2 linked regions of the Homo sapiens genome follow. The protein of the gene in region 2 purifies or fractionates together with the protein of the main gene of each other region. This does not show direct contact. Each region holds a gene or a part of one and is shown on either strand. Other genes may lie near its edges. The genes, in order: CDK17 and TDRD7.

Evidence for each region.
Region 1: the proteins of TDRD7 (region 2) and CDK17 purify together in Homo sapiens (affinity purification with mass spectrometry; 3 studies listed by BioGRID and IntAct, with this or other methods). This does not show direct contact.

Annotation. Positions count from the first base shown.
Region 1 is NC_000012.12:96,288,311-96,304,928, reverse strand, and holds part of CDK17 (cyclin-dependent kinase 17), read left to right. Parts: intron 1-4,568; coding exon 4,569-4,625; intron 4,626-5,945; coding exon 5,946-6,060; intron 6,061-7,207; coding exon 7,208-7,302; intron 7,303-7,596; coding exon 7,597-7,659; intron 7,660-9,806; coding exon 9,807-9,930; intron 9,931-15,641; coding exon 15,642-15,762; intron 15,763-16,618. UniProt on the Homo sapiens protein: May play a role in terminally differentiated neurons. Has a Ser/Thr-phosphorylating activity for histone H1.
Region 2 is NC_000009.12:97,402,761-97,420,041, reverse strand, and holds the start of TDRD7 (tudor domain-containing protein 7), read right to left. Parts: upstream 7,947-17,281; 5' UTR 7,804-7,946; intron 7,282-7,803; exon of another isoform or gene 7,198-7,281; intron 1-7,197. UniProt on the Homo sapiens protein: Component of specific cytoplasmic RNA granules involved in post-transcriptional regulation of specific genes: probably acts by binding to specific mRNAs and regulating their translation.

The sequences.
Region 1 (16,618 bases), on a different chromosome or scaffold from region 2:
TTCTTCATTCCTGGTTTTACCAATAGACTATATAGACCTTTCTTAATTCTCAGAGCAGGTGAGAAAATACAATCAAGTCCTTACATCTCTCAGCAATTAGAAATATAAGATGGAATGTGGGAGTGAGGTTCAAAGTCCCACAGAATTTACCTTTAGCATATTATGTACAGGAGTACAGGATTAAGGTGGTATTGTGGTGATGATAATAGCAATTTTTGTAAGACAAAGTGACTGAGTAGAATAGAGATTCTCAGTCTTTCCCCCTGCCCACCAAGTCTAAGGGATAAAACACATTTCTTTCGTTAACAGTAACTCGGTAATTCCCACAGAGAGGGAAATGAATGTTTGAAAAAGCCTCCCTCTTCCCCTGCTGTTTCTTTTTTGTTGTTTTTTGAGACAGAGTCTTGCTCTGTCGCCAGGCTGGAGTGCAGTGGCACGATCTTGGCTCACTGCAATCTCCGCCTCCTGGGTTCAAGCGATTCTTCTGCCTCAGCCTCCCGAGTAGCTGGGATTATAGGTATGCACCACCACACCCAGCTAATTTTTGTATTTTTAGTAGAGACAGGGTTTCACTATGTTGGCCAGGATGGTCTTGATCTCCTGACCTCATGATCCGCCCTTCTCGGCCTCCGAAAGTGCTGGGATTACAGGCATGAGCCACCGTGCCCGGCCCCGTTTCTTATGTATTAATATATACTCACTCTTAAAATGTCATCTATGGATCCTCTGTACATACAGAAGCTTCCCCCTTTATCTGTGGTTTCATTTTCCACAATTTCAGTTATGTGAGGTCAAACATAGTCTGAGGATAGGTGAATACAATGCCAGTATGATTATTTTGAGAGCAAGAGATAGAGACTGCATTCACGTAACTTTTATTACAGTGTATTATTATGGTTATTTGTTTTATTAGTTGATCTCTTACTCTGCAAAATTTATAAATTAAACTTTATCTTAGGAGTGTATTTAATATGTATAGGGAAAAACCTAGTACATACAGGTTTCAGTGCTGTCTGCTGTTTCAGGCATCCACTGGTGTTCTTAGAAGTATCCCCTGTGGATAAGGGGGACCTCTGGTGCTTCATTTGTTTTGAAGCTCAGCTAGAACAGCATCTCCAGCCTGTGATAGAGTAATTATGTTGCTAGATCCAAAGTAAACAAAAAGTTTCCCATAAGGCTTGGTATTGCTTACAAGTTACAGTGAATTCTAGGAAGACTATTATAAATTATAATTTAATTTATATATATATTTAGAATTTTCATGTGTTTATACTCTAAGAGCCATCTGAATAGGAATTTGCTTGGGGCTGTCAAAAAGTGAAGTATTTTCTTGGAACAGTGAAATATCAGAAAAAATTATCTTCATTTGTCTGGAAAGCAGCATTAAGGGGGCTCTTATATTACATGAAAATATAAGCTTTGAGCAGTGATAGTATCATACCCGAGGTTTATCCAAGGCACAGTTATTGCTAATTGAAAATTTTTCCCAAATACCCCCACCATGACAACTTGTGATTATAGTTGGCATTGGCAATTTTTGAGTTTCTGCAGAGACTGGAACAACAACATACACATTATAAAGCTTATTGTGCTATTTCTTTAGCTATTATTTCTGTTTCTGTGAAACTTTTAAAATATTCTAAAATAATCTAGGATGGAACTCAGGCTAGATTGTGAACTCATGAAAGTGGGAATCATGTCTGTCTTCTCTAGCACCTAACATTGTGCTGGGTAAATGTTGAATAAATGAGCTTTGTCCTCTGTCCTCTGAATAATTTCTGTAGGAGAGCACGTCAACAAGCTAGTCATTATATCTATTGTTAATCTTGTTGTGTTCAGCAAATAAAAATGCAAGCAAAATTTTCTAAAAATTTTATTTAAAGATTCAGTAAGTACTGTTTTGATGTAATCATTAAATCCTAAGTTGGAAATTACTAAATTGGGGGCTAAGCTTTTACTTTTTGAATTAGGATCTGACAGACAATTCACTAGTGTAATTGTGCCTTTGTCTGAATTCTCTGCCTGCCTGCCTGCCTGCATGGGTGGAATTCAGTAGTGTTGTTTATTTTATAGACTGATTATTCAAATTTAAACTTAACCTCTTACATATTTGTCTTTACAGTCTAATTTGTAGTCCATTTACATAGTCTTTAAAGCAAACCTCGACATTTTGTCATAGTAACCATTGGACCCTAGTGTATTTGATGTTTTAAGAACATAGTAGTATTCATTCATTTAAGATAAAAGGATTAATAAGAAAATTTCTCTACTCCTGAGAAGAAAAAATGCCTAGCTTACAGTCTTATTTCCCGTGTGCTTCTCATTGTTATAATGACATTTTAAATATTTTTTTCAGGAACATTCATTCTTTTGTTCATACTAGTTTGCATTTATTCTCAATATAGTGTTTTTTCCCCCATAAAAGATGACACAAAACTTAAAATTCATGGCAAAAATGCGGTAGTTCCATATTCATGAATTTAAGCACCTAAATTCCAGAGATAAGTATCAGAATAAAGATATTTTATTAGTTTCTGTGATCTTGGCAAGTAGCCTTTTTTATGGAGTAAAGTATTTAAGATCATATATAAATAGGCTATATAAAACATATATAAATTAAAAGATTATTCGTAATCAGACTGTCATGTACCAGATAGTGGGCTATTTGCCATGTTTTTCATACTGATTTTAAAAACTTCACTTGTATTTTAAAAATGTTATCTATTGTAGTTTTACTTCTTTATTTTGCATAGTTATTGATACTAGAAAGCGAAGGACTTAATACTGAGTCATGTTCAAGACAATACATGGATGAATAGTGTATGATGGTCGTAAAACTTCATTTTTAAAATTTAATGTTTTATGAAAAACGTCATAGGAAAATGTCATAGAATGCAAAAATAATTTTTCATTCATTCAATAATACCTGTGACCAAAGTTTTAATTAGTTTACTAAAATTGAATTAAGTACTATTGGACGTGCAGTTTTCCACATGGCTTTTAATATGATACATATCATTGTAACAAAAAGATAAAAACAGTTATTTTGAGGGGCCTCTGCTACTTTTGGCCATTCAGCTTTGGATAATTTATCCTATTGTCTGAAATGGTAAGTGATGCAAGTCTAATTACCAAGGATTATTTTAATTTTATTCCACAGTTCCAAGGAAAATTGCGTATTTAGACCTCTAGAGTTTGACTAAATCACAACGTTTAATCATCTGGCATAATTTATACACCTTTGAGAACTGAGATTATGTATTAAAAAACATTATTTCCTTTAACTGGCTTTTTATTTAAGGGCATTAGCACCATTCTAAGCAAGTGGATCTTTCTTTAGATTATCATTACCTTTTCCATTATCTATAAAGGGGTACTAGAAAGCAACTTTAAGAAAATTCTTTTCCCATTCTGTTTTACTTTTTAAAATATTTCTGCTCTCTCAGTCCCTAGTTTTCAATCTATCTAAAAACAAATTTTCCTAAATTTTGTGTTAAGGTTTTTTCTTTTTCATTTTAAATATTGTGTTTGTATTACATATTTAGGTATATTTCATGTACCCTGTTTATCATCTCCATACACAATAGTCAGGCGAGCTCAAGTTTTAAAAGCAAGGCTTTTAAGAACTCACTTTTAAAGCATTTTCTCTTGTTGTTGTGGGTTTGTTTGTTTTTTTTTTTTTTTTTTGGCCGAGTGTTGAGGGGGGGTGTAGCCAGAATTAGACTTACATTGCTGCTTCTATGTTTGCCACTTCCTGATCCATAGAAGAGCATGATTTTCAGTTGTCTTTTTCATTGTATTTTGATTGGAAAGCCTGAAACAAATAGTATTTTGTTGTTTGCAGGACTTCCTTGGGAATTCAGATTGGTGAGGGAGAAAATACATAGGAAAATTATTTATTTTGCAATTTTGTTAAAAAGAAAATCCCAAGTAGTTATCCTTGATAAGATTCTTTAGTATCTTAAAATGCCTGTGGTATCTTAGAATAAAACCAAATATTTTTCATGACAGAATGTTAACTGTGTATATATAAAGGTTGGGTTGACAATTTTGATTGTGAACTTTGATATTTTTGAACCTTTGAATGTTCCAACATTGGGTTTATTTTAAAACTTGATAGATATTCAACCATTTGATTATAATCAGATTTTTCTATTCTTAGTCATTCTTTAGAGTGGGAAAGTTTCAGAAGTTGAGGAAGAGATGAATTGAAACTTTAAGAATATATACAAGGCTGGGCGCGGTGGCTTACGCCTGTAATCCCAGCACTTTGGAAGGCCAAGGCAGGCAGATCACTTGAGGTCAGGAGTTCGAGAACAGCCTGGCCAATGTGTTGAAACCCTGTCTCTGCTAAAAATGCAAAAATTTGCCGGGCTTGGTGCTGCGTGCCTGTAATCCCAGCTGCTCCGGAGGCTGAGGCAGGAGAATCACTTGAACCCGCGAGGTGGAGGTTGCAGTAAGCCAAGATTGTGCCGCTGCACTCCAGCCTGGGCAACAGAGTGAGACGATGCTGTCTCAAAAAAAAAAAAAAAAAGTAAATACTACATTTTTCATTGTTTACTTTTCAGTCAGAAATTGGCTTTGGAAAAATGGAAACCTACATCAAATTGGAAAAGCTTGGAGAGGTAAGTAAATATCTCAAAAATGTAAGACACATTTTTTTCTTATTCGTCATTCAAACTCTGTTACTCCACGGTTTTTGTTAACCTGGAAAAAACGTAAGTACTGATGTCTACAAGATTATATACTTGTTCTGGAAAGGTAACAGAGTTTCTAGGAGTTAGAGTCTTCAATTCTTGAAATTATCCCATCAGTTTGAGAGGAAATGAATTTTTTTTATAGCTTTGAAATTTTTATTGAAGCAGAAAGTATTATGTTTTCTTAATAACAAAGTAGGCATTTGTCACTTAGTCTACTGCCAGTCTACTGTCTGTGCCACCATGGGAAATTGCATGAGTTCAGACCTGTGAAAAATCAGAATAAAGATAAAAACACATTTTTTGAAGGTTACGGAAATTCTTAAGATCTTGGTTTTCTTGAACTTACTACTAGTACTACTGATTTAGAAATGGCCTACCTCCTATAGTAGGAAAGGGCAAAGAAAACAATAGTTAATAGGGAAGGCTTAAAGGAGCTTGAGGGCTGTCCTGGCAATAATAGAAGAGATCCTTGTTTTTTAAAGGAGAGTTAATGTACAAAGATTCTGAAAAGTCTAGAAACATGGGTAAAATTTTTATGATTGCCGGGCGCGGTGGCTCACGCCTGTAATCCCAGCATTTTGGGAGGCCAAGGCGGGTGAATCACGAGGTCAGGAGTTCGAGACCAGCCTGGCCAACATGGTGAAACCCCGTCTGTACTGAAAACACAAAAATTAGCTGGGCGTGGTGGCGGGCGCCTGTAATCCCAGCTACTCGGGAGGCTGAGTCAGGAGAATCGCTTGGAACCGGAAGGTGGAGGTTACAGCAAGCCAAGATTGTGCCACTGCACTCTAGCCTGGGCGAAAGAATGAAACTCCATCTCAAAAAAAAAAAAAAAAAAAATTTATCATTTAACAATATGTACATTATGTTTTCATTTTTCAATTAATATGTTCAATTAGTGTCCATCAGTCTCCATATACCATTGCAGGTAAAGCACCTTTGATTTTAAAGCTATTGATCTAATTGTTAATCTAAAATAAGGTACAAAAAGTAAATATTCTGTCTATGTTTTTATACTCTTGAGGCACTCTGTAGTGTTACAGAAGTATGGAAGCTGTGCATATGAACTGAAAGTCCTGTTTACTGTAAGAAAAGCCATGGCTGATCATTGTGTGTTTTTCTTTGCAAGATGGAACTTAACAATGCTTAGAAACTAGAAATTCAGGTAGAGCTCTTTATTATAAGATGGTATTAAATAGACTCTTATGATACTTTTGATGCGTCCTTTAAAAATATATTTTATAGGGTACATATGCAACAGTATATAAAGGAAGAAGTAAATTGACAGAGAATTTGGTGGCATTAAAAGAGATCCGATTGGAACATGAAGAAGGTGCACCCTGCACAGCTATAAGAGAAGGTATAATAATTATACAGAACATTTTAAAATCAAAGTGGTGGAATAAGTGTCTATTTTTTATAAGTAAAAAGAGCTCAGATATACAAGTAATAAATGACTGGAAGATGTAATTAAACCTTTAAAAAGCAAATTTCTAAAACAAATACTCAAAGGGATTAATTATATTAGTGTATAACTTATAATGAAATCTGAATTCATTAAAAATCACTATCATAGACAACTATTTGTCATAGGGAAATGTTATACATTGGTACATGAGGAACATGGTAACTATAAATTAACCAGATAAACTAAATAAATTAAAAAACAGTGTGTAAACATATTTATATCATAGTACCATTTTATAAAGAAGATTATTCAGAAAATGGCTTGAGGCAACTGATTAGTAATGTGGAGGGGAAAAATGGTTCCTTGTAATTTATATCTAAATTAATGCCAGAAGTTTCAAAAGTTAACATTTAGGAAAAATACAGAAGATGATATGGAGAATGTTATAATATTGGGGACAATTTTAAGTATTATAATATCAAACCCAGTAGTATAAAAGAAAAAATTGATTTCCATGAACTTTTTTTTTTTTTTGAGAGGGAGTCTGGCTCTGTTGCCCAGGCTGGAGTGCAGTGGCGAGATCTTGGCTCACTGCAAGCTCCGCCTCCTGGGTTCACGCCATTCTCCTGCCTTAGCCTCCCGAGTAGCTGGAACTACAGGCGTCCGCCATCACGCCCGGCTAACTTTTTTTTGTATTTTTTAGTAGAGACGGGGTTTCACCATGTTAGCCAGGCGATCTCCTGACCTCACGATCCGCCCGCCTTGGCCTTCCAAAGTGCTGGGATTACAGGCATGAGCCACCGTGCCCAGCCTCCATGAACATTTTTACAACCAATCCCCTTGGTAAATTATTGCTTTAAACTTAAGAGAATCTTTTTTTTTTTTTTTTAAATAGCATTGTTGCCCAGGCTGGTCTTGAACTCCTGGGCTCAAGTGATCCGCCTGCCTCGGTCTCTCAAAAGTGCTGGGATTATAGGGGTGAGCCACCGCCCAAGACCTAAACTTAAGAGAATCTTTTAATCAGTTCGTATGTTCAACTTACTTCAGGTTTTTATAAAGACTGCCACAGACTAAACAATTTTCTTTTTCTGTTTTGCAGTTTCACTATTAAAGGATTTAAAACATGCAAATATAGTAACCTTACATGACATTGTTCACACAGATAAATCCTTGACTTTGGTGTTTGAGTATCTGGTAAGCATCTCATAAAAATTCAGTATTTAACTTTACTTTAGAAAAACATAGTAAATTGGACTTTTAGTTTGTTTTTTATTTTTCTTTAAACTGCAGCTGTGCTTAGCTAAATTGGACTTTTTAACAGCCCAAGAGACTTTATTATTTAGTTATCAGTTTTTCATTAAATTATGTGTATGGTGCATCCAGTATCTTTTCTTGAAAAACAACTAATTTTGAAAAACACTATTAAGTGAACCAGTCACAACATTCTGAAAATGGTGTATCACATAGCAGAGTGCTGTGTTTTTCCAGGATAAAGACCTGAAACAGTACATGGATGACTGTGGAAACATCATGAGTATGCACAACGTAAAGGTATGTTTTCTTGCGTGTGTAATTTTTAAATTTTGTTTAAAGCATAGGTGAACCATTATATAATGAAATGTACCAGCCTCATAACTCTTCTTCAGGGTTTTCTGTTTGGCCTTTTAAATAGGTTATTGTCCTCTGAACGTGCAATATTTACCCAGAACTTCTGTTTACTACACTATAGCTTTCTTAGGATCAGACCTTTTTGTAGAACCACTTCATTCTTTTGACATTTCACATTACAACTGATTGTCCTAATATAGAATATATGTACAGGTGTATTCTGCTTTAAAAAAAAAATTCAAAATAAACACGAATGATGGGTGCATTCTGTGAAAGGCCTTCTTTAAATAGTGAACTCCCCAAATAAATGGTATTTAATTGTAAAACAACAACTTTTCAGAACTAATGAATAAGGCCAGAACATGCAGGTTTTATGAACACTATGCTGGAAATACCAATCTGTACTGTCAGGAAGAAGAGTAAGATAATTGGTGTGTTTTCTTACAACAACATATTTAAAAATTTAATGCTAAAAATGTTTGCCATAAAATCAGTGCCAGATGATACCCAAAAGTTATTAACTGAGTAACAGCATCCAGCATAGTTTGTATTCTTACAGTAGGTTTCTTTGACCTGAGTAGTGTATCCAAATTTAGCAAAGATTTATTTATCCAAACTTAGTCAACAATATGTAAGAACCTATTCTGAAAATAGGCTGTCGCAGCTGTGTGCTTCAGACATTTCTAATTCTGTAGGTAGTAATTTTAAACTTACATTTTAAAAAAATATTAAGTTTGGTGGTTATAAAGGAGAGCCAGTTTCTGTTACTAAAAGACAGCTCAGAACATATGGATAACACATTGCTAAGGATTTTTAAAAAGGGCTTTAAATGTACTTCCATATATATTCTGTCAGGGTTGTTTTCATCTTATTTTACATCTTTTGTTTGCAAAGTGTTATAACTGTCATTTTGTATTTTTTTGGTTTTAATTTTGTTTTTCCTGCTTTTTTTATTGGCAATAATTTGAAAATAAAACAAGGTCCTTGATGATAATTTCACAAATGTTGAGACGTTTATTTCTTTAATGCCAGGTTTACATGATTAGCTTAAGTTGGAAAGCGTTTTATTATTTATTTGTTTAAATGGCCTTTATACTTTCAAAATACAAAGTGTAACAAGAATTCATTTAAATAGTAATTTTAGAGTTTTAAAAACATAATTATGTAGACTGGAGAGACTCTGGCACAGAGAATTCATTCAGGCATACCGTTGACCTGCTGCCTTGGCTGCCTCAGTGTTCGGATGCCCTGTTTTTCACCTACAGATGAACTGAGGGGAAACTCTTGAATCCTCTGTACTTGAGGTTCTTTTTGTTAACCCCAGAGAATCAAAGGTCTTATGTGTTCCGTAACCCTCTTTCTACCAAAATGTACAGCAAAAACTCTACCATTAGCCTTATAGGAATTACTTTTTTCAGAGTCATTCAGAACACTACGGTGCTAATGCCCCTTTGTGAATCACAGTAGATTTTGAAGGCTAAGTAGGAGGTGCTGAAAGTAAAGTACCCAAGAGATGGGTGATAGAAGCTGGTTTAGGTTAGTTTTATAGTAAGTAATTTGCCAGAGCTATGCAGCAGCTTTCTCTTTGATACCTCAGACTTTTCATAAAATCGCCAATTCCAGTGCCTTATTTTAAAGACACTGCCCCAGATCAGAGTTTTTGTTTTTGTTTTTTTTCAAGGAGAGATGGGTGGGAGGGGGGTTGGTTGGTTGTTTTGCCAGAATTTTATAATTAAACTATGTAAACCTTAGTAGGCCTGTAAGTTTATGAGGATATGTTTTTTTTTTTAAGTCATTTTCCACAGTAAATCAACTGTTACTGCTAGGAGGAAGTTACTTTTTAAAAAATATTTCCATAGATACTGTTAGACTAAAAGAAATAGGTAGATGCTTCAAATAGAATAATAAACTATTAAATTCAGAAAGCCACTATATATAAAAGGAAAAAGACATTGTACTTAAGTATGCAATTACTTTCTTTTTCCTGTTACAATGTTCTAGGCCAGCTGCTTTTCTGCTTACCATCATTTATGCTTATACTAAAGCATGTCTCATCTTTAAGACTAATTTTTATTTATTTGTTTCTGTAGCTGTTTCTGTACCAAATTCTACGTGGTTTGGCATATTGCCATAGAAGAAAGGTATTGCATCGAGACTTGAAACCACAGAACCTCCTCATTAATGAGAAAGGAGAATTAAAGCTAGCAGATTTTGGTATGGAATGTATGAGATATTTATTAGTACTTCCAGGTTCTAAAGTGTAATGGTTAAAAGATCAACCACTGTCATAATGTGCCATTGCTTTTATGTGGGTTTGGAAATTTTCTCGGTAGCCCACAGAATAAGATATTTGACAGAACTTTGGTTGGTGATTTATGTTGGTTATTAGCAGCAAATTCTAAAATGCACAGGCTGTTCTTGGGTGTGGACAAAGACCCCTAGGGCTCCTGAGACCCTTGTAGGAGGCCTCTAAATGTAAATATATTACCAAAATTGTACCATCTGTTATTTGCCTATTTCACTGTGTTAATATTTGCAATGATGGTCCCAAAATAATAATGCATAAAACTATACATCAAAGTAGTGGCACCAAAATATATCTTTTTTTTTTTTTTTTTTTTTTTTTTTGAAGACAGCATTTTGCTGTTAAAGCCCAGGCTGGAGTGCAGTGGTGTGATCTTGACTCACTGCAACCTCTGCCTCCCAGGTTCAAGTGACTCTCCTGCCTCAGCCTCCCAAGTAGCTGGGATTACAGGCATGCGCCACCATGCCTGGCTAATTTTGTATTTTTAGCGTGACCACCATGTTGGTCAGGCTGATCTCGAACTCCTGACCTCAGGTGGTCCACTCGCCTCGGCCTCCCAAAGTGCTGAGATTACAGGCATGAGCCACCATGCCCAGGCCGTCATTGTATTCTTTACCACTACACTTACGTAAAGGGAAAACTGTCAGTTACACTTACATGATGAAGCAATAAAATTTATTAATTATATTTAATTTCCATCCTTGACTACATTTCTTTTTAATATTTTATGTGATAAAATGGGAAGTGTACATAAAACTCATTTGCTGCACACAGAAATAATGTGGTTACTTCTCAGGGAAAAGTGCTCATGTGATTATTTGAGTGCACATTGAACTAGCCCTGTTATTTGAGGGGACACCATTTTTACTTAAATGACTGACAGACAAACTGTGGTTATTCAGACTTAGGTGTTTGGCAGACATTTTCCTGAAAGTGAATGAAGGAAGCCTATCATTTCAAGGAAAAGAACTGTCAGTATTTCTTGCCAATAATAAAATTCAAGTTTTCAAGCAAAAATTAGAGTTTGGAAATTTGGATCTGCTTTGAGTTTGATGGCTTTTCAATACTTAGAGACTTTTCTGATGAGATCGATGTTGATGTTAACAAACACGATTTTTCAATATGCTGAAAAAGTGTATAAACATTTGGAATGTATAACCCAGGGATCCACTGTTTTCCAAATGGCTAATGCATGATATTACAGAATCATGCATGGATAAAAGACCCATTTAAAGTACAAGGTCAATGAATTTTAGTGCAACAAAAGCATGAGAAGTTCATCGTTATAGGTTTTGTTAACACATAGCTTTTAAGAGACCACTTACTTTCTAGTTCTGATGTAGTGTCAAATAAGACTATTCACATTTATCAGAAAAGGCTATTAAAATGCCCCTCCTCTTTCAACCTCATATCTGTGTGAGATTTGATTTCCTTCATATATGTATGTTGTGATATGTATATTTGATCTATTTTGATACATATTGTGATATGTATCAAAGCAACATATCACGACACACAGAATGCAAAAACAGATGTGGAATCCAGTTGTCTTCTATTGAAATAGACTTTAGGCCAGACACAGTGGCTCAGGGGTGTAATCCCAGCACTTATGAGGCTGAGGTGAGAGGATCACTTGAAGCCGGGAGTTTAAGACCAGCCTGGGCAACATAGCAAGACCCCATCTCTACAAAAACAAGACTTAAAAGAGATTTACAAAAATGTGAAAGAAGGCCATTCTTCTTACTGTTTTGTTTTTATAAAAAAAATGTTTTTCATAAAAATGTCATACATGCTGCATATAAAGGGTGGTGTTTTTAAAGAGAAAATAATATTTTAAAATTTGCTAAGTTTTAATTTCTAATGTGGCAAATATCAGTAAATATATCCACAAAAATAAAAGCTCTTTAGGTCTTTGATAATTTTCAAGAGTATAAAATGGGTCTTGAGAACAATGAGTTTAGAAGCAACTACTGAAAGGCGTTCCCTTAATATACCTGCCACCATTACTCTGTATTTATTATATGCTCAGTAATTTAATTGTAGCTATTTATCTATTTTTTTTTTAGCTAATCTGGTTTTAAGGGAATTGAAAGTAAAATTAAATGCTCTTTTTGCTTCTAGAAAGTAAACTTTTTCATATTGAAGGAACTTTGTAGAGCAGCTTTGAATTTTTTGTATTCCGCATTCTGAGAGTTTGAATACTCTTAGAGAACTTAGTTTTTAAAAACCCATGCAGTTTTCCATAACTAAATTCATAATTTTTTTTCATAAATGATTATGGTAGTTTTTTGGTTGTTTGTTTTGAGACAGGGTCTTGCTCTGTCACCCTGGCTGAAGTCTAGTGGTGCAATCTCAGCTCACTACAACCTTCGCCTTCTGGGTTCAAGCGATTCTGGTGCCTCAGCCTCCCAAATAGCTGCAATTACAGGGGTGCCCACCACGCCCAGCTAATTTTTGTATTTTTAGTAGAGATGGGGTTTCACCATGTTGTTCAGGCTGGTCTCGAACTCCTGGCCTCAAGCAATCTGCCTGCCTTGGCCTCCCAAAATGCTGGGATTACAGGTGTGAGCCATCACACCTGGCTTTGATTATGGTAGTTTTATGTTTGGAGTATTTCATTAAATTTAATAAATATGAGTGTTTCAAGTATTACTCTTCACTGTCATTAAATGGTGAGTTTATTCTGGAAATTCCTATACTTTTGCTCGTTTAATACTTTGCCATTTGAAGAGTAAATTACTTTTTGCATTTCCTTCCTTAAAAAGGAAATGTGTGGGTTACCTGTGTTTGAATAACAAATTATATGCTATTTACATATGCTTTCATAAAGTCTCTTCTTGGGCATAGTTTATGTTGTTATTTCCCTTATAATAATTGTTACTCTCTCTCTCTTTTTTCTTTCTCTTTCCTTCCCCCAGCCACTATTTCCTTTTCACTCTTTTTCCTTCTCCTTCTCTTTGTTTGCTAACCTGCATGTAATGCTCTTTATTCCCAATCCCAAAATGAATGGCAGTGAAGAGAAATACTTCAGGATGCTAAGGCGGGTGGATCAGATGAGGTCAGGAGTTCAAAACCAGCCTGACCAACATGGTGAAACCCTGTCTCTACTCAAAATAGAAAAGTTAGCTGGGCATTGTGGCGGACACCTGTAATCCCAGCTATTTGGGAAGTTTAGGCAGGAGAATTGCTTGAACCCGGGAGGCGGAGGTTGCAGTGAGCCAAGATCATGCCACTGCATGACAGAGCGAGACTTCATCTCAAAAAAAAAAAAAAAAAAAAGCAAAAGGAATGTCAAGGACTATAAAAAATTTACCTTTGGCTGGGTGCGGTTGCTGACACCTGTAATCCCAGCACTTTGGAAGGCCCAGCAGGCAGATTGCTTGAGCTCAGGAGTTCAAGACCAGTCTGGGCAATATGGCAAAAACCTGCCTCTATAAAAAATTTCAAAATTAGCCAGGTGTGGCGGTGTGCACCTCTAGTCCCAGCCAGTTGGGAGGCTGAGATGGTAGGATCAGTTGTGCCCGGGAGGTTGAGGCTTCAGCGAGTCATGATCAAGCCATTTCATTCTAGCCTGGTTGACAGAACAAGACCCTGTCTCAAAAAGAGGAAGAAAAAAACAACAACTACTTTTATCAGGGAATACTCTGAGTGCTTTAAATTTTGCTTCCAACCTCTACAATGCAAGCCAGGCAAATTTTACCCACAAGGCAACAAGAAATTCTGATTATTCCATGAGATAGTATATTCAATTCTGTCTCTATTTCTTCCTTTTTTTTTTTTTTTTTGGTTGCATAGTAAATATGACTTCTTGTGAAGGAGGGTCATATAACTTTGAGTATTTATACTATAAGTTGTTCTCTGTCCCTCTGAAAATTCTACCCTTTTCCCACGATCAGTGAAAATCAGAAGTCTAGGAACTAGTGATATAGACAGATATTTTCACTAATGATAGAAAATGGCTTATATAATAATACCATATCACATTTAATTAATTTTGTTTAGGAGAGATTGTTTCATTTCATTCCAACCAGTATTGAAATTCTAATTGTGAACTAGAAGGCCATGTACACAAACACCATAGTTCGGAATCCTCTCAGGAGTGGGAGAGTAGGATACTGAGGAAACTATAACTGGTAATTTGCCTTGATATGGTATGTTACAGGATAAGCACGTTTGCAGCCCTGTCCTTTGCCTTCCTATAACCCACTTTTAATATCAAGAAGAGAGGTCAGAAAGCTACCTCCATCTTGTTAATTAATTACCAAAATTGGTATGAAAATAATTTGTTGGACTTACTTCACCAAGTTGAGATGCTAGAGTAAAACTTGTAATTAAATGAAGGAATGTCAACATTGTTCCAGTTATAACCTTTCACCATTATACTGAACTGAAATAGTATATGAGTCCTGCCTAATTAAATTTCTGACATTGTTTCTGTAACCTTATTCAGTAAAATTGATTTTTTCTTTTGTGACATTTTTCTTTAATATTTTAATCAGATATACCAAGTTATATATAACAGCAATCTCAGCCTAAAAAATAAATTCTTCCTTGTTTTGGCAAAATAAATTTGTAATTTTCCAGATATTTTTTAAAGTTGCTTCTTCAGATCATAATTTAGAGGCTTCGAGGTAATAGCGACTCTCTCACACTAGTGACTCAAGAGATAAAGTTGTAAACTCTAGCCTTTATTTCTGGATTATCAATAGATTCCATATTAAATTAGCAAAGGAATGGCAAATGTTTTATATCACTTACAGCAAGCTTGTCCAACCCATGGCCCATGGGCCATATATGGCCCAGGATGGCTTTGAATGCAGCCCAACACAAATTCGTAAACTTTCTTAAAACATTATGAGATTTTTTTGCGATTTTTTTTTTTAAAGGTCATGGCTGTTGTTAGTGTTAGTGTATTTTATGTGTGGCTTAAGACAGTTCTTCCATTGTAGCCCAGGGAAGCTAAAAGATTGGACACCCCTGACGTAAACAGCAATTAATAATATCCAAGGACAATGAAGTCTGTCTTACTCCAGAATGATCCATGTAACTTACAACCTAAAAAGGGAGTACAGAACAGCACTGTAATTTTATTCCAAGGAAATTGTCTCTAAGTCGATTTGTCAGTAAATCTCAATGAGATTATGGACCAATAACTTTACAGTTTTTGATAAAAAATGGTATAGCAAATGAAAGTTGGAATCAGGTTAAAAGGTGACAAAAGCTCATAGCCGTTAGAAGTAAAATTGTGTATCTCAATGTCATTGGCCTATTATGGATTAATTTAATTGCAGCTGAGAAATAATTTTGTCATCATGATTCATGGACAGAAGGAAAACATCTTAAGTTTAGATTCACCCAGAATACTTCACCAGGTGTATTCAAACATAAAAGTAAGCACAGTCTCTGGTTGTGGAATTCTTGTTTAGTTCAACTATGTAAGGATTTGCTTACTTAGGGCCACATGCACTCAACGAATTCATAAAGTTAATAGTGGTGAAGCCTCAAGAAGCTACGAATTAACCATTTCAGGCATCCCTTTGAATGGAGTCATGGTGAGAATAGGGTCTGAGAGATCCATTAAAGCTTTTTCTTAACCCTTTGTTTTATTTTCCCTATGAAGGACTAGCCCGAGCCAAGTCAGTTCCCACAAAGACCTACTCAAATGAAGTTGTCACACTATGGTACCGGCCACCTGATGTGCTTCTTGGTTCCTCGGAGTACTCAACACAGATTGACATGTGGTAAATATATACAGATGTCACTGACATTTATAATTTTGAAAGAATGTAACTGTTAATGCAAGATGTATTGATAAGTATATACTTTTAAGGAGATATTATTTTAAAGAGCCATAATGTAACAGTGATTAATGAGTTCTGGCATGGGAATTAGATTACCTAGGTTTAAATACCAATTCTGCCATTTAGAACTATGTGTTAACTTTATTCAAATTACTGGCCTTTGCCTCAGTTTCCTCATTTAAGGAAATGGGAATAGTAACAATAACTACTTTGAAGTGTTGTAGGTGATGTTAAGATTAAATGAACACTCAGAAGAGTGCTTTATGAGACACTCAAGAGTATCTGATACATAGTAATTTAAAACAAAATTATCATTTTATCATCATTTAATATTCACCAAAATCTTTCTGCTTTAACTTGAACTAAAAGTAATAATCAAAATATTGTAGTCATCTTTCTCACACACCGCTTCGATCCTGACACTCTTCTACTCAGACACCGTTATTGCCACCCCCTTCATTACCTATAGAATAAGGTACAATTAATTCCTCAATCTGATACTTAAGGATTTCCATAAGATGTCTCTAAACTACCTTTTCCAACTTATTTCAGACTGTTTCTCAACACAAATGTTCCCTTTTAGCAAAATGGCATACTCACTATATCTCAGGAATAATGTGGACTTTCCTACCTTTGCTCTTGGTGTTCATACCAGTCCACCCATCTGGAATGCCCACTCCGGTGCTCTAACTTGGGCTCATTCCTAGTAACGTTCAAAATACAGCTTTTCATAAATCCTTTCCTGAATATACTCTAGCCTCTGTTGGCAGTTCCTTCCTCTGAACTGTGGTTGCAT
Region 2 (17,281 bases):
TTTATTTCTCTTATGTAAATTCTGAGAAATGGCTTTTCTAAAAATCTAGTATCTATAATAATGCTGGGAGGCTATTATCCTCAACTTATAGATGTGAAAACCAAGGTTCAGATAAGTTAAATACTTAAGATATCGCGGGATGTAGATAAGCTAGGATTTCAATCCAGGTCTGTTTGATGCCAAAGGCCACACTTTTCCCATTATATCACCCTGTCTACTGGTACTGGGAAAAACACCCAGCAAACCCTGAAGAATTAAGAACAGGAGACAAGACAGGAAAGAAAGGGTAAGCAGAGTAAAAAAGAAAAAAACAGTGGTGTGAAATCCACAGCTGACTCCACTTAGTCACAGGGCTGGTGTGGATTCCAAGACAATGGAACAGCTGGAGATACTCAATAGAAATTCATGGCAGAGACAGAGAACTGCAGAGTCTGCACACCTCCACTACCTCTGAAGTCCACACTCTGAATGAATGCCAGGGAGCAGGAAAGAGGACAGCTTTGGGACCTATACTTCACGGTTGCCAGATGTCAATGCTGAAGTATGAATTTTGGGTCCTGAATAGTAAACTGATGACACGGAAAATAGTTTAACAATGGTTCATGACTCATGAGTCAAAGATCACTGAACTACTATACAGTTATTTCCACAAGTAGTAAAAGCAACAGTGGAGACTGGCCAAGTTTTAATTTGCAAGAGGACATACTAAAGCATCACTTGCTTACTCCTCAGTGCCAATCCACCCTGACTATCCATTTCTGATCTCCACCTTCCCCATCTATGTGCTCTTCTTCCCTTCAAAACCCAATCCCTCCCATCAGTTCATCTAGAGCTCTTCTGAGTGAAACTGGGCTTTGCATCTTTGTATATCCGTATGCCTAAGTGGGCCTTGGCTATCAGCTACATACGCATTACATATAGATATAATGTCAGGTGGTTAGCACACATCCAGGGAAAATATCCATCTGGGTGTGACCAGTGTAAACGACTCAAATTAGACTGTTCAATATATCTGACTCCTCCCTGGCCAGACTACTTTATATTCCCCTGCCAGAGTTTCAGTAAGAAGGCCTTACCCTTTGCCTTAAGAATAGAGTTTCCATGGTATTCTCCTTCCCTTCATTTTGGAAAGAGCATCTGCTCCACTGCCACCTCCCCTCTGTGGTCTACTTTTCTCAGCTACATTAGGAGTGGACAGCAACCATTAATTTATGGGGAAAAAATGTCGGATAAATGCATTTTACTAATGGGTGTCCTGTTACTAAAACCTAACAGAACACTGTGATTCAGGTTTGAAAGGACAGGTCCAGCCCTGTCTTAGAGTCTAATCAGAGGCTTGTTCTACAGGTTGCCCTCTGCGAAAGCCTTCCACTCCTTCCACCCTTGGGAGAACCATTTTAGACCACTGCCCCTGAAATGTCCCTTCTATCTTCCTTATTTCTGCTCTGAAACAGCTGCAAGCAGGGATCTCCCAAAAAGGGCACTTCACAATTTTTTTTTTTAAGGAGCGGCATTCAGGTAGAGTCTTCCTCTTGTCCCCACCCATGACCTGTTTAACGGCCAGAGCAGAGTGAGGTACGAAGCTTTGCCTAATGCTTGCTTCTCTAGTCCCACCCTCTTTAAATGTGTCTTCTCCTTTATATAGCAGATGTCTCGTGACCTCCATCCTAATTGTTCTATCCTTTGCCCCGAGACTCTTGGAAGAAAATTAAATAAAATACCAGTGTGAATCTGCACGGCACAGAAGTGCTCATCCTTATTTTTCACTTTTCCCACCCTATCCAACCTCACATTTACCCACCTTGATTTCTTGGCATTGTCAGACTGTTTTTTCTAAGTTATATTTCTCAATCTGACCTGAGAAAAGCTTATGCCACACACATACTTCCTACTTTCACTCCCCCTTTATTTTTCCCCCAGATAGAGTCTTGCTCTGTCACCCAGGCTGGAGGGCAGTGGCGTGATCTCCGCTCACTGCAACCTCTGCCTCCTAGGTTGAAGCAATTCTCCTGCCTCAGCCTCTTGAATAGCTGGGATTCCAGGCACCCATCACCATGCCTGGCTACTTTTTGTATTTTTAGTAGGGACGGGGTTTCACCATGTTGGCCAGGCTGGTCTTGAACTCCTGACCTCACGATCCACCTGCCTTGGCCTCCCAAAGTGCTGGGATTACAGGTGTGAGCCACCGTGCCTGGCCTTTCACCCCCTTTTTAATGCACATATTATCACAGTTAAAATCTACTTTAAAATATTTCAATAGTAAAGTTGCTAACACCTGGCCATTGATATATTTTGATTTGGTTTTGGGGGAAGGGCAGGGGATTGCAGAAGATTATGCCTGAGCCTCCTTTTACTTGTGTTCCGCAAGTTTAATGCCACTGCTCACTCATTTTCCTGGGATAAGCCCCTTCTCCTGGATCTCATTCTCTTTATCTGTAAGATGAGTGAGGTCAGTATTAGTTCTCAATCCTCCCCCAAGCAATGTGATACATAAAGATGGAAGGCGGATGTCTACAATTCCTTCACTCTTCACCACTTCCATGGCAGTTGTCCTAGTCCGTGTCAGCAACATCTCTTTCCTGGAGCAGAGCAGCTGGGCTCTTAGCTGGTCTCTCTGCTTCCACTTCACCTCCTAGAATCTGTTCTCCACATATCAGCCTGAGTGATCTTTTCATATAATATATACTATTATATCACGTCACTCAAAACCCTCTAATGCTTCCTGTGTTAACTCAGACAAAAAGCCAAGTCCTTACAGAGCCAAAAAGGGCCCTGCATAACCTGCAACCCCCACTTCTTTGCCCTAAGTTCTCTCTTCTCTTTATTTTCATTCACCCATCCTGGGCTCCATGCTTTTCCTTGAACATGCCTGAGATGGCCTCACAACAGGGCTTTTGTACTTGCCATTCTCTCTACCTGGGACATATTGACTCCAGGGGCACATGTGGCTCACAGCCTTACCTCCTTCAGCTAAAGTACGTGCTCAACTGTCACCTCCACAGTAAGGCCTTCTCTGGCCACCCTATTCAAAATCAAAACTGAGATGCCAGCTTCCCTGATTTTCTCCTTAGCACTTATCACCATCCAATATTCTTCTCCATTTAATGGTTTTATCTTTCTCCCCAACTTCAATGCAAGCTCCATGAAAGCAAGGATTTGTGTCTGTTTTGTTCATTGCTGAATCCCTAGTGCCTAGCCCACCGAGAGCTCAATAAATATTTGTTGAATGAATAAGAAATTCTCCATCCACCTACCACTCCTTTTCTCTCCTACTCACTAAAATACAGCATAACATAGGTGAGCTATTAAAGGCATAACTCTGAATCCAATTTAAGTTACTAAAAAATTATCTGCAAATGTTAACAATTCTTATAAACTGAATGAGACAGCCAATCGCAACACCAAACTGTGGTTGAGAATCATCAAGTAGATTATTTCTGAGCATGTCCACTCTGAGCCAGATTAGGCCCTGTCAGGGCCGCAGCATGATTGCAAGGAGCCCACACATCCTGACAAGCAGCAGGCACGGCTTGAATATTAGTAAATGTCTCACATGTACTTATAGTCCTGTTTTTCAGAGTGTGCAGATATTATTGGGATCCATAAACACAAACTGATATTAAATTCACAACAGCTTTTGGTAGTTATATGTTTAATTGACCAATGGATACTGCAAGCACAACTACTAGTGTATGAGGTTTCACGAAATTTTTCTAAAGCTACAAAAAATGGCCTCATACTTGAGGAGACTGAGAATCAACGCTTGACCACATGGTTGCAATCTGTAAATTAAGTTCCCTCCCCCTGCCTGCCTTTTTAAAGTATGCTATCTTTCATGGAGGACTATAACTCTCTATTTGCAAACAACTTTTTGAAGGGAAGGGGAATCCCTTGGAGTATAAGACTGTGGGTCTCCAAGCTGGTGAGAAGCAGTTAAATGCAGTAAAACCTGGAAGGCTAAATGTGATTGTATTCAAATGCACGACTTGCCAGTCTGATTTCAATTCCCACATTAGCAACATCACTTCAGGCAGTGAACGAAAAAGAAAGTGTAAGCTTTAAAAAAAATCGTCATTATTTTCTAAACTATATCACTTTGGAAATGCTCTGAGTTTTGTTACGTGGCTCATGATGACTTTTTTTTGAAACTTTCGGAAGATGGCAATTATACTCTCAAGGTATATAAGAATACTTTGTTCTAACTATAAAAATAAAGTTTAATATCTTAGACATCATCCATTAGAAGCATAAAAGAAAGTATATCATAGGAATTTCAACTGGAGTGCAGTGGCGCAATCTTGGCTCACTGCAACCTCCGCCTGCCGGGTTCAAGTGATTCTCCCGCCTCAGCCTCCTGAGTAGCTGAGACTATCTTTTTTATGCTTTCGTGCTTTCCTTTTTTTCTTCGCTTATACCCAGTTAATCTTAATTATCCAAGACACTAATAATGCACATGAGGTGGGGTGGGGAGTTGGGGAGTGATGACAATCTTTAGGGAAACAAAATTTAAATAATTTAAGTGGCCTAAAATAATTCTCACTCTACTTCAAAACTGCATTTTGTAAATTCACAGCTTTTCTCTTTACTATACCTGAAAATGGCCCAAGGAAGTCCTATTCTGAAGAACCTGGTTTTGGTGTATCCCAGATAAACGCCTTCTACCATTGATTGATCCTCCCTGGCTCAGTCATTTGCATGTTATCTGCTTCCTCTAACTACTGGTGTCAAAGGCCTTTAGCTGAGCTAGTCTGGCTTCCATCCTATGCCTTCTCTTTTCTAAGTTTCTTCTTGCTCAACTATTTCCAACTGTATGATTTGGCTCATCTTCCTTACTACATTTTTCATGTCATCAGTTTAAGTTGTCGAGTGGCACTAAATCTTAAAACAAATCAGAAGAATTATTAGGGTAAACTGAAAACACCAAGTAATCTCTCTTAGCTTCTTTTAGTTAGATGTTCAATTTTGAAGTATCTGGATATCTCTTTAGGGCATATACTTCTAATAACTAACTGCCCTTCTCCTTGAAGACACTATTTTAGCAACAGCGGGAACTTAAAGTCCCATAATGTCTGTGCTGACACATTTTAGGCATCGTCTAGGCTAACCCAAGCTCCTTATCTTACAAATCAATAAACTGAGCCTCAGAGGGAAAATTTTTTCCTAAGATCTTTACCCAATAAATGATTTCTCACCTTGCGACACTTTTAAATGCTCTTTTCTTTCTAATCATAGTCTGTTACCACTTCAATTACTCCTTCACCAACCGGTTTTTAAAGGAAAAAGATGATTAATACCCTCAGATGATGGTATACTTCCTTAAGAGTTTTTTTCAGGGAGTTATCTTTTTTATTCTTGTGATCTCAAGTTCCAAATTATTCGTGCATTTTAACTGCATACCACGAATGTACGTAAGTAAGGGATTTCCATAAGTCTACATACTAGACGAAAAAACCCTGAGATAATAAAGTGGCTTAGTAAGGAGTTTGTGTCTTAATCCTAGTTCCGCTACTGATTACCTGTGACAAGTCACTTCAGGTCTCTTTTTTTCACAAGGAAGATAAGAAAGGTGGGCAAGAGCCATGATTCTCAACTTTCCTTGGATTCACTGAAGGCTGAAATAAGGTCCAAATATGTAATGAAAACCGAGTTTGCTTACTCATGACAAAGCTGCACAGGCTAAAATGCCAAGCTTACTTTGAAGTCACACTGGGTAGCTTGCACTGATCAAGTTCTGATTGGCATATATACATGTCTTCAACTAAAAATTGCAAAATTAATTACTTTTAGTTTGAAAGACAAAACTGTAAACATATTTGGCTTACAGGGAAATAATGACAAGAATGAAGCTTTCAAAAGTACAGAGGTGGGAGTGGAGGGAGGAAAAAGCAGGTTTGGCACAAAGAAACAACAGTTCACGTAAATATAAAATTTCACCAAGGAACTTCTGTGAAAGTGTCCAGATGCAAAGCACTCTATGTCAAATCTCAATTCTTGAAAACAGCACTTGACAAACACAAATTAGGCACTCGGGGTTGGATTATATTTTTTCTTTATATTCACATTAAGTATCCAGCTAGATTATATTGCACAGAGAACTTAAAAGAGGGGTTCTGCAAGGAGTTTAAAATCTCTTGATGCACAATACAATAGTTCATTCAGCCATGTTCAACCTGTACACTTAAAAGGGCATTAGCAGGGGATTACACTTCATTTTCAATCTACAGAGACTGAAATCTGAAGGCACTGCCAACTGCTGCCTCACAGTCTCACCGTGCAACTACCAAAGACGGAGGCTGTGTGCCACCAAAGGGCCCTGGATTGGGGCACAGGAGATGTGAGTGCTAATCCAGCTGGCCCCAGGGGCAATTCCCTATACCCAGAACAGTACTTTGCACGTAACTGATGCTCAATGAATGTCAGCTGAGAGGAAATGCAAAAATATCCACCATGTGCCCATTTATATTATATAGTAAACACAAAGATCTTTGTGTCCCTGCCCTCAAAAAACTAAAATCCAATTATGTAAAACATGGACCGTTTGTTGGGAGGAAGAGAGTGAATACTGCTTGGCAATTATTATGAGGCAAAGGATATACAGTGGTTATCTTGGAAAAGCCTTGCAAAGTAAGCCAGGTACCTCTATTTGACACATAGAAAACCAGGCTAAGAGAAAGCATGTAATTTGTTCAAGATCACACAATTTGTAAAATGAGAAGCCCAGATTTCAATCCAGGTCTGCAAAGTTCACATTATTTGCAGTATGCAACACATTCATACACATCAAGGCAGCCCAGGACGAGACAGGGATTTGGGTCCAAGTTTTACTTCTGCTATTAAGCTGTTGCCTATCTCTCTAGAGAGAACATTTCTCTGCATTTTTTTCACCGGCACGATTGGAGAGCAGAGAGGTGTTGGTAGGAGGGTTAATGAACTAGATCTGTGGTTTTTTGGTTTGGTTTGGTTTGGATGGGCGGTGATCAGAATTCTTCTGGGCCAGGACTTGTTCTAATGTGGTTGTTTCCCTTCCCTGCTCTTAGAAATTATTTGAGAATGGTACCTTTAGCTATTAATGGAAATATACCTCTCAAGTGAATGGGAGCAGAAAGATATGCCGGCTCCAAGCTCCCTCCTAGCAAGCTGAAGCTGAGAGTCTGACCCTGCTGAGGGGATGCTACTGAAAGTTGAGAGACAACTTACTCACGGATCCATGTTTCCCTCCCAGCTGGGTGCTCTGTACCCACTGGGTGCTCCTCGTTTGAGAGAAATGGGGATGTGTGTCCTGCATTACTTAAGCGGCCTGCCTGGGGCTCGTCTCCAGATTATAGAGACCTTCAAGAGAAGTTCGTGGTGTAAAATACTTGGGTTCAAATAGGGGAGCGCGGACATCCCTCGCTGGGGGCGGCGGCTGCGGCCTGTCGCGCCGGTAGCGGGAACCACTTCCTGGTCCGCATCTCCCGCCCGCGTCCACACCCCGCTGCTGCATTTCCCCCACGGCGCAGAGCTTCCGAGGCGGCAGGAGGCTCCGTCCGACTCCCGCGTGAACGCCCGGCCCGGAGCAGGGTCCCTTCAGAGATTTAAAACACAACGCTCTGGAACTCCAACTCCCCCGGCGCCCAGCCCGGTTCCCAGGCGTCGGGGCGGGGGCAATCCCCTGCGGCTGCAGGGAAAAGGCCCCGAGCCTGTTGGAGCCCCCGGCCCTGGCCGCGGTCCCACCGGTGACCCAGGTGCGCCGCGCCCGCCCGAAATCTCGTCCGACGTCGCCCGGCACCTGTCGCGCCCGGAGCCCGCAGGACCTGCACTCACCTCGTTCCGGGGGCCCACGGCCCGTCCCCGCGTCTCTGGGCCCAGCTCCTGCCGCCGTCTCCGCCAGGGGCCCCGCCGCGGCCGCCGCCCACTTTCGGTTTCCCCGCACCACCGGAGCCGCCCCGCGGCTTGGGAATCACCTCAAGCCCCCGCCCCGCCCTGCTCGGCCCCGCCCCGCTTCGCCCCGCCCCGCTTCGAGGGCAGCCTGGCCTCGGCTCTGCGCACGCGCGGGCGCTCCGGCCGCGTCGGCCCACGCCGGCGTCCGCGCGTGGGAAGGGAAACCGTCGCCACCTAGCGGTTTCTGCGCGTGCCCACGCACCGGCCGGCGGCGGAAGACGCCTGCGGGGCGGGTGCGGGAGCGCCTCCTGGTGGACAACGCAGGTACGCGCGGGCCGAGCGAGCCGGGACTCAGCAGGGGGCGAGGGTGGCTCCTTCTATGGGGCTCACCCTCCTTCCAAACAGTTCAACTCCTGCACATTATTTTCTTCAACATCTGGAGCAGTTACTTTTTATTGCCCTAGACACACACTCTGTCCGCCCATATCCTTCAGGCCTTTCTCAAGCATTACCCTTTCAATGACGGTGGACACAGTCTCTAACATGTCAACCTCCTTCCTTGACTTTCCCTATCCCCATTCTCAACCTTATTTCTCCTTAGCACCTATCTAGCACACTATATGTATTTTACTTATGCTTTTATTGTCTGCTATCCTTCTAAAATTAAAGCTCTGTGAGCACAAGGATTTTTGTTTGGTTCCTTAACCTATTCCCAGAGCCTAGGATAGTGCCTAGCACACGATCAGCAATAAATATCTGTCAAATTTATTCATTCACTCTAAAGTTATTGAACACCTAATAAGTGAATACTTATTTATTCTGCACATTAATTCCACCAACACTTATTGGCACCTGCTTTGCATCCCTGCAGCCAACATTGAACACTTCTCTGCACCATTGGATATGCATTTACTGAGAACCTGCTGCTTATTCAACCGGTATTTTATTACAGCTTGACTGCCATGTATAAGACATACAATAAACTGAACGTTTAAAATGTACAGCTTGATAAATTATGCATTTACTGAGAACCTGCTGCTTATTCAACCGGTATTTTATTACAGCTTGACTGCCATGTATAAGACATACAATAAACTGAACGTTTAAAATGTACAGCTTGATAAATTATGCATTTACTGAGAACCTGCTGCTTATTCAACCGGTATTTTATTACAGCTTGACTGCCATGTATAAGACATACAATAAACTGAATGTTTAAAATGTACAGTTTGATAAGTTTTGATATATATATATCACTGTGAGACCATCACTGCAATCAAAATCATGAACATATCCATCACCCAAAAAAGTTTTACTGTGATCCTTTGTAATTCTTATATCTTGTCCCTCCCTGTCACTTGCCCCCTCAACTGCTCACCTGCTTTCTGTTGCTATAGATTATTTTGCTTTTTCTAGAGTTATATGTAAAACTTTTATGTATGGAATCGTATGTACTATCCTTTGGGGGGCTGCCTGGCTTCTTTTATTTAGCAAATTATGTTCATCCATGTTGTTACATGTATCAATAGTTCATGTCTTTCTATTGCTGAATGGTATTGTAGGGATGTACCAAACCTACCACGCAACCCAGCAATTCTGCTCCTGGGTATTTACCCAGGAGAAATGAAAGCAGATGTCCACACAAAAACCTGTACAAGAGTGCTCATGGCAGTTGTGTTGGCCGTAGCCCCACATGGAAAGAATACAAACATCCGTCAGAAGGTGAATGGACAATCAACTAATATATATTGAACACCTGCTGTTAAATAACAAATTTTCATGGATAAGCCTGTGCTTATAGAGCTTTTGATTCAGTGAAAAGATGCAGTAGGCAATACAAAGAAAAATTGGAAGTAAATCTGGAAAACCTGATATCCAGCTCTCAGACACTTGGATGTTTCCCCAAAGGCGGTAGGGAATTGTTCAGAGTTTTTGAACAGGGCTTTTCTTTGAACACTGTTCTCTTTCATATCCTAGATCTGGTCCCTGACTAAGTTTGCCTAAATGTCTCTCTCTGGAATTTCTCTGCATCTCCTTTGCTCTATTTCAGTCTATTTCAGATGTCTTTCTGTTCTTTCCCTTCCAGTCTACTCCAAACATTGCAGTGGATTTTTAATAGACTTTGCTATGGTCTGAATGTTTGTGTCCCTACAAAATTCATGTTGAAACCTAATCCCCATTCTTGCGGTGTTGAGAGGTGGGACCTTTGAGAAGTCATGATGGCTTCGTCCTTGTGAATAGAATTAGTGCCCTTAGGGGCTTAAGGGAGCCTTCTGCCCCTTCCACTGTGTAAGGATTCAGCAAGAAGGTGCCATCTTTGAAGAGGAGAGCAAGTCCTCACAGGATGCCAAATCTGCTGGCACCTTGATCTTAGACTTCCAAACCTCCAGAACTGTAAGAAAAAAATTTCTATTATTTATAAATTATCCAGTCTAAGATATTTTGTTATAGCAGCAGGAATGGACCAAGACAGACCTAAAAGACAACCAGCCCCAATTTGGTCTCTGCAGTACTCACAACATCCTGTGGCTCCACATTTTAGAAGGGAAAGATGTAAAAAGCAGCTGCCAAAGGAAAGAGTGCTAGTAGTAGCAGGAAATAAAAAAAAATTTCAGAGTCTAATATGTAGAATAAATCATAAAATAATGTGAGTTGAACCCAAGTTTGAGATCCTTTATCCTTGCAAAGATGTTCCATGTTTAGACTGCCCTATATGTAAAGAAAAATGAAGCTCTGCAGCTAGTTTTTTTTAAACCAGCTTTTTTGATAGTTGACATATAATACATATTTAAATGTACAGTGTGATGAGTTTTGACCAACGTCTTTAATTGTGTACCTACCACCACAATCAACATATGGGATTAGTTCATAATTCCAAAACTTCTCCTGTGCCCCTTTACAGTTAATTCTCTCCCCATACCTTTATCCACTAGCAGCTACTGATCTGATTTTTGTCATCATAGGTTTGCCTTTTCTAGCATATCATATAAGTGGAATCATGCAGGATGTCATCTTTTGTGTCTGGCTTCATCACTTAGCATGATGGTTTTGAAAGTCATCCATGTTGTTGCACATAGTGGTAGTCGGTTCCTTTTTAGTGCTGAATAGTAAGCCATTGCATGGCTTTATCACAATTTGTTTATTCATTCACATTTCATGCACATTTGTGTTGTTTCCAGTTTGGGCTGTTATAAATAAAGCTGTAATAACAGCCATATGCAGGTCTTTGTGTGGTGATGTGGTTTTTTGGCATAAAGACTTAAGTATAGAACATCTGGTTGTGGGATAGGTGTACGCTTAACGTTTTAAGAAACCGTCAAACTGTTTTCTAATGTGGCTGTGCCATTTTGTACTCCCACTTTTACTCTCTCCTTGGTAATGTGTAAGACTTCCAGTTGCTCTAAATCTTCTCCAATACTTGGTATTGCCTGTCTTTCTAATTTTAGCCATTCCAGTGGATGTATAGGGATAGCACACCGAGGTGTCAATTTGCATTTCCCCAGGACTAATGATGTTGAGCATCTCTTCATGTGTTTATTGGCCCTTCATATGTGTTCTTGGGTAAAGTGTCTGTTCTGCAGGTAGATTTTTGTCCAAGACATCAGGAGGTTCTCAGAATTGCCTGGGTATCTGACAGAGCAAGGGCAGATTAGAACGTTGTTTTTTTTGTTTGTTTGTCTTTGTGAAGTGGTCCAAGACCCAGGGAGTTCAAGAATTCACCCCCATACCCTGGATATAATTGGATTTCAGGAGAATTAAGAGATATCAGAGATGGAACAGACTGGTTACTCCGTAGGCACAATGGTTCTTACCCTTTTGTGGCGAAGTCAGAATAGATGAAAGCAAATTTTGATGTATGATTTCAGAGAGGATATAGAGTCCTTAAAGCTCCACTGTGAACCCACGTTAAAAATTTCCTTAGAGGAAAGCATATATCCTGGGGCCAAATAGCAGAGTTTTTGAAATGAACAGGACTCAGATGGAAGGCATTCTTCCTCTGCAAATGCCCAAGCATATCTTTGGACAACAAGGGCAGTGGCCAGGAGCATCTAGATCTCTTTTAAGAGAGGCAGGCATAATTTCCCATCCTCAAGGGCTGTAGAGAGGTCCTTGGTACTCTGCTTAATGTGGTTTTTAGGGTAGGAAAGGTAGATGGAAGGGGAAATTAGTAAAAGCTGGCCACTAAGCAGAAGGCTGGCAGGTCATTGTGCCTGTCCAGAGACAAGAGAGAGGTTATCGTGGGAAGGGAGTGCAAATCAAGGCCCAAGTATGGGGAAGGAAGACAGCTTTGTTGGTAGCTTATCCTTGGCAGAGAAAGATGGACATATTTCCAGTGTGAAACCTCCATCCAAAGCCCTTCATGCATTTTGTCCACACCTGAGGAGCCTATATATTTGGAGAGAGTCACATTGGATACAAACACCAAAATGCCTGTACAAAGCAGGCAGGACCAATACTATTGGTTGAGTTGAATCTCTGTCCTTCCTCTTTTTCATCTCTCATCAGCAAGCACCATTTAGAATGAGGGTGAGACAGCAAGCATGGTCCAGGAACATGTCTGTAGTTCATTTTTTTTTTTCTTATCTGATAGTTCTTTTGGTCTTAGCAATATAGCCCAAGAACAATACATTCCTCATCCTTTCTCTAAGAGCCTGTCAGACTTTACAACCACCATAGGCAGCTTTGTCACTTGCAAAATTTAGAGCAACAACTTGATAGACCTCTAGGTGCTGTCATCTCACTTCCCTTCCTCTCTATATTGACTCCTAAAAGAAAGCAAAAACCAAAAACAAAACTTTCATTTCTATCAGTTTATGACCCATCAAATGAACAGCGGGGACTTGGTAATAACATTATTCAATGTCTGGAGTAGTTCCTCTCTCAGGAAGCCTTCCTCGAATCCCCCACCTGACAATCATTGTTCCTTTAGCTGAGCTTCTAGACTGCTTTGTTCCTTAAATATATTTATAGCAGAGAGAACATAACAAGTGATTTTATATCTCATCTCCCTTGTGAACAACTTGAAAAGAGTTTACATTTTATTCATCTTTGGTTGCTGAGTTATTTGATTGCAAATAATTTTAACAATACCCCTATTTGAAACTAAACTACAGCATGTTTGAAATTATGTATACAGATGGAACCCAGCCACATGAGTACTTTTTGCTTACATAAGGTCAGGAAAAATAGATCCACGACAAAAGGAATCTTTGGACAGATCTACTTTTGGTTAATCATTAACACCATAATCACTGCCTCTCCCATCAGCTTTAATTGCCTCATGAACAAATGCAGAGGAATTTCTAGACAACTGCATTTGTTTCAACTGAGTAAGGAGAAAAGACAAAACAAAACAAAACAAAAAACAAAAGGCAGAGATTGCCGGAGCCCTGCTAAAATCCAGGCCCCGGTAAAGCTAAGGATGTGCTGATCAAGCAAAACCCCCTAATCTGCCCACAAAGCCCTCCAAGGTGAGTCAGCTGAAAGGGCCTAATCCCCAGAAGGGACTGATCACTAAAGCTTTAGAGGCCACACAGCCACAGCACACTGGAAAACAGGGGATAATGAAAGCTTAAAGGGATATTGTGTAGAGAAAGGTCATAGAACCAACAGAGGAGGGTCTTGGCTGTCTAAGAGGTCACCTTTGCCCTCTCCTGACTTGTAGTTCATTCATATAGCTCAGTCTTAGGACCCCAAAATAAGAATGATTCCAAGGATGTGGATATCGTTAAGAGTTAGCTGGCTTAGGGCCCCCGCTGTGGGGTGGGGTGTGGAGGTGAGGTAACTAATATTTTAAGCAAGGCAATCAACCACAATATGACTGATTTTGTAATAGTCAATAAACCAGATGGCACAAGAATTATACTGCAATAGCTGCTAGTGGTGAGGAATTGGGGAGGCAGTGAGGAGAAACTACATGGGTGCAGAGGAGGTGCTCAGTATAGGTGAGCTGACACTGAAAGAAGCAGACAGTATTCGAGAAGTGTGGGCTCCGATTAGAAGTGTACTATACAGGAAGAATCACTACCCGTTAGTTGCTTGCCCTGGATCATTTAGGACTTGACCTTTCGTTAAATTGGGAGGTTGCATAGAACTCCAGAGCCCTTTGGCTCTGGTTCTAGCCTTGGATTCCCTTATGTGGCAAAGTGAACACAGAAAGTAGTGAAAGAGGCTTCTCTTGGGGCTGTTTGGTCAATTTCTATTCATCAGTGGTTATCTATGGGAAATAACCACTCCCCATAGATACTCAACCACTCTTGAGACAGTGGGCTCTGCCCCAGTCCAAGCCCCCTGCCCCCAAGCCTGGGGCACGTTGTTTTGTACTTTTATGAGGTTATTTTTGGTTGTCAAAAAGATCAGGTGCACCTCCTGGCATTGAGTGGGTGGGGCTGGGATGCTTGTGGTACTTCCCCCATATCAGAGAAGTTCCCCTTGTCTCAACCAACATGTGGATGTCATGCCAGTCATCTATGTAGATGACAGACCTCTGCCTTATATATAAACACAAATAATTTTCCCCACAGTTTTACTATACAGTGAATTTTCCAATGCTATTTTTATCTGTGAATTTCACTTTAGGAAAGTAAATGAAGGGATTACAAAATATTTGTCATAAAACGGGGGTGCCAGGTCAGATAATACTGCTACTCGAAATCCCCCAACAGCCAACTCCACCCAGAGAGAAGCTGAGCAGGATATTCTTGTTTACACCAGTAGACATAGGGATACACAAATTTATCTTTACTAGATAAAATTACCTCACTTGCCCTAGTGCTCAGACCAGTTGAGGAAGTTAGAATCATTCTTTTTGGGGGTCTTTCTGGAGTTTACTTAGCCCCAAATTGTATTTCCCCTACCATAGGTACAAGAGATAGTCTTCTTCATCTTCCTCCCAATTCTCCCTCATCGCCTCACACAGTCTTTTTCATTTAAAACTGGACTCCTCACTCTCAGCAGCAACTTCCTTAAGACTGGATTTTTATATTTATAATTAGAAAAGTATAGCACCTGGGGGCTAGCAGTTGGCTAAGGAGGGCTAGCAAGCTGCTGGCTGGAGTAAGACAGTGCAGGAGATTTCCTCTAACGATGTGGTTCTTAATCTGAGAGTGATATGGTGTGTCAGCACTAACATGGTATTTTCCTTCCTTTGTACACTACAGGTTGAACTATAAGCTCACTTGTAAATATCACGGTAATTATGGGAGCTTTATTTACAAAGCTGTGTGTGTGTGTGTGTGTGTGTGTGTGTGTGTGTGTATGTGTGCATCCTTAGGAGTGGCGGCCCACATTCCTGGTGTGACTTGCTAGAGCTAGGGTAAGCAATAAGGACTTTGTCCTTCAAATATTAGGTTTTGTGTTCTGAGTGCTGATTTCTGCTTTTGATTTTTCAGGGGCCAGCACAGAGGCTGACAGCCATTGTTTCAACCTCCATGAGCTGAACCTCCAGGAAGCAGCTTCCTGGGGATTTAAAGAGACAATACTTGTGCTCCCACCCCCATGTCTTTTGGGAACCAGACATTTAAGGAAATCTTTGTCGGGTCACTGGTTGATTACAGAAATGATGGAACAGAAACTTTAGTGACCACAAACAACAATATATATCTTGCAAAAATAGTTTTAAAAAGTCATAAATAGATGACCCAGTCCTCATAAAGTACAAGAAATCTCTGAGGTATTGAAGAATTAGATATCCAGTTAGTGCAACATGGTATTTAAAATTTCTAGCTCTCAACAAACAATTACAAAACATACAAAAAAAGAGGAAAACATGGTCCATTCACAGAAAAAAAGAAGTTTACAGAAATCTTTTCTAAGAAAGACCAGACATTGGAATTATTAGTCAATGGCATTAAGTCAACTGCCTTAAATATGTTTAATGAGATAAGGAAAACCATAAACCAAGAACTAAAAGGAATCAGTAGAATTATATATGAACAAAGAAAGAATATCAATTAATAAATAGAAATAAAAAAGAACTAAACTGAAATTCTGGAGGTGAAAACTGTAATAACTGAAATGAAAAATTAACTAGAGGCATTCAACAGCAGGTTTGAGCAAGTGGAAAAAAGTGTCTATGAACTTGAAGACGGGGCAATTGAAATTATCCAGTCTGGGGAGCACAAAGACAAAAGAATAAGTAAAAGTGAACAGAGGCTAAGGGCCCTGTAGGACACCATCAAGTGAATCAAATTTACAATATGAGAGTTTCAGAAAGAGTAGAGAGAGTTGGGAAAGAAAGAACATCTGACGAAATAATGACTGGCAAATGTCCCAAATTCGATGAAAGAAATGAATCTACAGATCCGAGAAACTCAACAAACCTCCAAGGATAAACTCAACAAACTCCTAGGATAAACTCAAAGAGCTTCACCCCAAGACATATTATAATCAAAGTGTCAAAAGTCAGAGACAAAGAGAATCTTGAAAACAGAAAAAGAGAAATGATTAGTCACACACAAGGACTCCTCAATAAGATTAAGAGCTGCTTTCTCATCAGAAACCATGGAGACCAGCAGGCAGTGGAATGAAAAAGTGCTGAAAGAAAAAACTCAAGGAAGAATTCTCTCTCTGGCAAAACTATCTTTCAAAAATGAAGGATAAATTAAGACATTCACAGATAAAATCTGAGAACATTCACTGCCAGTAGACCTGCTCTCACAAGAAATGCTAATGGGAGTCCTTGGGGGCTGAAATGAGAGGACACTGGACAGCAAATTGAAGCCATATGAAGAAATAAAGATCTCTAGTAAAGATAACTGCATAGATTAATATAAAAACAGTATTGTTGCATTTTTGGTTTGTAACTATTTCCTATGCAGTTCAAAAGACAAATACATGAAAAGTAATTATAAATCTTTTAACAGGCATACATGTAAAATGTGTAATTTATGGCCAGGCACAGTGGCTCATGCCTGTAATCCCAGCCCTTTGGGAGGCCAAGGTTGAGCGACCACTTGAAGCCAAGAATTCAAGATCAGCCTGTGCAATGTAGAGAGACCCCATATCTAAAAAAAAAAAAAAAATTAAATTAAAAAAAAATAGCCAGGCATAGTGGCACATGCCTGTAGTCTCAGCTACTCAGGAGGCTGAGGTGTGAGGATTGCTTGAGCCCAGGAGTTTGAGGGTGCAGTGATCTATGATCACACCACTGCACTCCAGCCTGGGTGAACAGGCAAGACCCTGTCTCAAGGGAAAAAAAGATATTAATTGTGATAACAGCAACATAAAGGTAGGAGGGGATGAACCGTATAGGAGCAGAATTTTTGTGTGCTGTTGAAGCTAAGTTGGTATTAATTCAAACTAGACTGTTATAAATTTAGGATGCTACAGTGGACAGAATGTTTATTTTTTTTTTTTGTAGAGACAAGGTCTTATTATGTTGCTTAGGCTGGTCTCAAACCCCTGACCTCAAGCAATCCTC